2 separate regions of the Homo sapiens genome follow, and region 1 is linked to region 2. The links come from fine-mapping of genetic effects on gene expression. Tissue or cell type: whole blood. Region 2 holds a variant in brackets; the other region holds the start of a gene. All regions are shown on one strand. Distances are between the middles of the regions.

Region 1 (2,683 bases), 200 kb before region 2:
AAACACAACTCAGATTTAATGTTCTGGAGCAAATGTTTTTCAACAGACTTGACCTGCTTAATCTTCCTGACAATGTGCGCAGTTATGTTAGTAATTTGCATACTCTTGGGAAGGGATATGAGACACTAGCAAACCAAAACGCCCAGAGGGCAGCTATATGTTACAGTGGTAATCTTTTTCTTTTTTTCTCAATGTGTGTATGTCTGCTTAATGTTACCACGTACTATCGTAACACACTACTACTATGGTCTGATCTTTAAGAGCAAAAGTTAGAAGCTTTGTTAACTATTATTTCTCCTTTAACTCTGTCTCTTACGAATACACAATGGCTTCTTGAAAATTATCTTAAAAAGACTCTGATTAAAACAAAAACCCAATGACAACAACAAAGCAACCCCTTTATCAAAGGCTGCAGCATTTCTAGAAGTACCCTTCAACTCACTAGCTGGGAAGGAGAGTGCACTTTTTTTTTTTTTTGAGACGGAGTTTCGCTCTGTCACCCAGGCTGGAATTCAGTGACAATTCAGTGACAAGTCTCTGCTCATTGCAGCCTCCGCCTCCGGGGTTCAAGCAGCTCTCCTGTCCCAGCCTCCCGTAGCTGGTATTACAGGTGTGCACCACCACACCTGGCTAATTTTTTTATTTTTCATTTTTAGTACAGACGGGGTTTTACCATGTTGGCCAGGCTGGTCTCGAATTCCTGACCTCAGGTGATCCGCCCGCCTTGGCCTGCCAAACTGCTGGGATTACAGGCGTGAGCCACCACTCCTGGCCGAGGGTGCACCTTTGAGACTAGGTTTCTGCAGCACACATTCATTTTAGTAATCAAGGACATATTGCTGGATTTAGGACGTGAAGAACAAGTCAGGAGCAGATGCTCCAGGCTGCTCGAGGAGGAAGGGGACCACGCCTAATGAAATAACCAAGGATGTCCCAGTCAGGAAGAAATGTGTTAAGTTTTAAACCTGTGTCTTCGCTTTTGGAAGGAACCTGGAAAACGGACGCGGGTTTGCTTCTAATCTGCAGTCCTGCTTGCAGCCTGAGGAGGACGTAAAAAGCCTTGGGGCCAGACAGCCCCAAAACGGGGGCGTTTTACCCTCTTAACTTTCTCTCCCCTTCTTGACGCAGAGGGCGTATCTTCACGCCTCCTTTCCCCAGCCCGCGTTCCCGTTCTCCAACAACAACCTGCGTGTCTCCTTTAAGAGGCGGGGGCCGTCCCTCCCTTTCTCCTCCCAGTCTCCCGCCCTTCACACCTTGGGTGGGAAAAGAGTGTGGGGGCGGGGTAGCCGGTGAAGCGGGAGGGGCGGGATCACAGCGAGCGCTCCAATGGCCCTCGAGGCTGGCCACGGTGGACTCCGGCAGCCAATGAGCAGCAGGCGGGGAGGCGTGGCGGGGCGCTGTTGCAAAGCATCCAACGTGGGCCAGCAGGCGGCCGCGGAGCGCGGAGCCTAGGGGGTGTGTGCGGGCGAGCGGCCGGGGGCGGGGCTTGGGGGACCGGCCGGGGCTGGGCCGCGGGGAGGCGAACAGCAAGCGGCTGATTGTTCGGCTGCGAGGTCGGCGGGACTCTTGCTGCGCGGAGGAGCCGTGCGGAACCCGAGGCTGCGCGCGCGCGCGCGCTCTCTGGCCGCGGCGTGGGGACAGCGAGGCGCACTGGGGCCTCCCAGCGCGGGGCCGGCCGCGCCGTCCAGCCCGAGGTCTACGGCTTTGCGCTCCGAGCCCAGAGGAAGATGCCTGCCGGCACCGAGCTCGGGCTGCGGGGCTGAACGCCTGTCTTCCAGGCGCAGCGGCAGCACTGCCCTCGGCCGGTGTCGGTAGCGGCACTCGGCGTGCCCCGGGCGGACGAAGAGCGCAGGCTGGGTACACCTTGCCCGAATCGGCGGAGTTCGCAGCTAGCGCGGGCGGGCCGGCCGGCCCGGATGGGCGCGGGGTTTGCGGCCCCCGCCGGGTGCTCCGGAGCGGCCCGGGCACCGGGGGCACGCTGAGTGCCGGAGCCGCGGCCGCAGAGAGAACTTGGGGCGGGGGCCATGCCCCGGTGCGGAGTCTAGAGCCGAGCGGAGCGCCCCGCGGGCCCGCCCGCGTCTGCGGCCGTTCGGGTCCTCACAGTCCCCGCGCCCGGAGTTCGCAGCGCGCTCCAGACAAGATGGCGCGGCCGGTCCGGGGAGGGCTCGGGGCCCCGCGCCGCTCGCCTTGCCTTCTCCTTCTCTGGCTGCTTTTGCTTCGGCTGGAGCCGGTGACCGCCGCGGCCGGCCCGCGGGCGCCCTGCGCGGCCGCCTGCACTTGCGCTGGGGACTCGCTGGACTGCGGTGGGCGCGGGCTGGCTGCGTTGCCCGGGGACCTGCCCTCCTGGACGCGGAGCCTGTGAGTGCCGCCCTTTCCGCCCTCTCTGCGCCCCGGGGCTCTGTCACTTGGGGATGGAGCGGCGGGGGTTCGTACTCAGGGAGGGGGTGCGGACTGGGTTGTGTGTGTGGAGTTGTGCGTGCTTGTGCGTGTTGGAAGACTGTCAGGTTGGAGTGGCGGAAGGGAGATTCTGCGTGGAGGTCCGGGGGAGTAGGCGTGCGAGAGAGCCTGGAGAAGAAGAGCGTGCCTCGTGGGGTCTGGAGACGAGCGAGCGTGGGTCGTAGAGATTTGGGGGTTAGCCAGCACGCGTCGTGCGGGCCATCTGGGGGTGAGTGAGTGGGAGTCT
Region 2 (2,683 bases):
AAGAAAAAAAAGCTCAACATCACTGATTAGAGAAATGAAAATCAAAACCACAATGAGATACCGTCTCACGCCATTCACAATGGCAATTATTACAAAGTTAAGAAACAGACCAGGCGCAGTGGCTTACGCCTGTAATCCTAGCACTTTGGGAGGCCAAGGTGGGTGAATCACGAGGTCAGGAGTTTGAAACCAGCCTGGCCAGCATGGTGAAACCTTGTTTCTACTAAACAAAAAATTAGCTGGGCATGGTGGTGCACACCTGTAGTCCCAGCTACTCGGGAGGCTGACGCAGGAGAACTGCTTGAAATTGGCAGGCAGAGGTTAAAGTGAGTCATGTTAGTGCCACTGCACTCCAGCCTAGGCAACAGAGCGAGACTCCATCTCAAAAAAAAGAAAAGAAAAAGAAAAAAAGAAAGAAACAATAGATGCTGGCGAGGTTGAGGAAAGACAGGAATGCTTTTACGCTATTGGTGAAAATGTAAATTAGTTCAACCATTGTGGAAGATGGGGTGGCAATTCCTCAAAGAGCAAGAACCAGAAATACCATTTGACCCAGCAATCCCATTACAGGGTATATGCTCAAAGGAATATAAATCATTATATTACAAAGACACACGCACATGTATGTTCACTGCAGCACTATTCACAATAGCAAAGACAAGGAATCAACCCAAACCAAATACCACATGCTCTCACTTGTAAGTGAACAATGAGAACACATGGACACAGGGAGGGAAACAACACACTCTGGGGCCTTTCACAGGGTGGGGTGGGGGGAAGGGGAGCATTAGGAAAGATGGCTAATGCATGCTGGGCTTAATACCAAGGTGATGGGTTGACAGGTGCAGCAAACCACCATAGCACATATTTACCTATGTAACAAAGCTGCATATCCTACATATGTATCCTGGAGCTTAAAAATTAAAATGAAATAAATAAATAAAAGTCCTTCAATCCCTAATATAAAAAATTTGATATCTGTTAACATCACCTTTTAAAATCCTAACCAGGAATTCCATTTTTTATAACACTGATTAAATTACATAATGTTACTCTTAGAGAAACACCTTAGAAGAAAAATAGCAGACCCATTTGAGATAAAAGACATGTTCTCCTGTTGTCTTTAAATTATAGCAATGTACTTAGTAACAGAAAAGAAATCCATTTCCTAAATTTAGACGCTGCTTCTCCCAACTTCTCACAACCATGAGAACACCAAAGAAAGGCATGAGAAACTAACAAACTATAATGAGCGTGTACATTATTATTTGAGGGGAATGGGATGGAGATCATTTAGAAATGCTTTTGGCTTTTCGCAGCTCTAAGTGTAAAAATTCAGTTCCTAGAAAACTGTCAGTTGCTAATAAAGAATCTCAGAACTCTAACAAGTGATACTACCGTGTCATAAAAAATAAA[T/C]CACAAGATACACTTTTTGGTGACAAAATCTTTTGAGTTTCTTAACATTATGGGGTAAAATGGTTGTGAGTTTATCAGGTCTTTTTGGCCCTATAAATCATAGTACATGTTATAAGTCATCCTCTTAATACTAATGTATCAATTTTTATCACAATTCATTTGGTAAACAGGATAATTCTGCAAAGTATTGAAAATTGCAAAGTTCTGAGCCAGCAACAAATTAGATTTCCACCCACATGGTGGTTAATCAGTCCCATGTACAGAGAGAAAGGAAACTGGATATAATGATTCTAAAAGCATTTTAAAGAATGTATTAGTGAACAACGAATCCTCAATGCCTGACACCTCGATGGTTTCCTGAAAGCACCAGTGAACCATGTAGCGTATATCCCAGTTAGCATGTTCAGCAATCAGGGGTTGTTACAGAGCTTACCAGTATAACAGCATGTATACAAGCCACACACAACAACTCACAGAAGCTCACAAGCCTCCCCACACCTTTGACTCTAATCCTCCTCCTGCAAAAATAGAAGAAAAAATATGACAACAGACATGTGAACACAAAACTGAAACTGAACAGAAAAGGGAAGATATTAGCTTAGATATGAGACATAAGAAAAAGTATGCTCCAGAATCTTTTTAAATCAAGAGGCATTGTGGGAGGCCCCCAAGATTCCCACTCCCTGATGTACCCGCCCTGTATAATCCTCCCCCATCCAGTGTGGATGGGACCGTGAACAGGACAAAGACAAGTCCTGTGACGAAGTTACATTTAATCAGAAATATGAATGGATTCTGCAGATTTAATTAAGTTCCCCCATCAGTTGGTTCTGAGTTTATCAAGAGGGAAATTATCGTGGATGGGCTTGACTTCAAAGGTGAGTTCTTAGAAAAACCAGCCCCTTCCTAACAAGATCTGAAGTGTGAGAGATTCTCCTGCTGGCTCTGAAGAAATAAAATTTCATGTTGTAAAAGGGCCTATGGAGGGGGCCACATGGCAAGGACCTCAGAGCAGCCTCTGGAAGTAAAGTGTGGTCACCATCCAATCGCTAACAAGAAACAGGATCCTCAGTCATACTGCCACAAGGAAATGCCATCTGCCAACCGCCCTGTGCATTTGGAAGAGGACCCTAGCCTCAGATGAGATCACAGTCCCTGCAACACCTTGACTGTCACTGTGTGAAACAGTGAATGGAGAACTCAGCCACGCGGTCCTCAGACTGCTGCTGTAGAGACCCATGAGATCATCAATATATGTCACCTTAAA

What was found. PIP is the estimated chance that this variant, and not a neighbour inherited with it, causes the effect.
Region 1: LRIG1 starts here. The variant in region 2 is fine-mapped to the expression of LRIG1 in whole blood (INTERVAL, PIP 0.95).

What each region holds. Positions count from the first base shown.
Region 1 is chr3:66,499,865-66,502,547 of GRCh38, reverse strand. It overlaps LRIG1 (leucine rich repeats and immunoglobulin like domains 1), which reads left to right and starts at 1,526. Exons shown (of 19, transcript NM_015541.3): 1 at 1,526-2,358. The coding sequence starts at 2,141. RefSeq lists silencers at 1,157-1,816, 1,837-1,976, 2,017-2,096, 2,117-2,326 and enhancers at 1,429-1,929, 1,930-2,430.
Region 2 is chr3:66,303,704-66,306,386 of GRCh38, reverse strand. All of the region lies in intron 5 of SLC25A26 (solute carrier family 25 member 26), which reads right to left. Among named protein-coding and RNA genes, the nearest start is that of SLC25A26, 84 kb to the right of the region's middle. The variant T/C (reference allele first, on the strand shown) is at 1,417.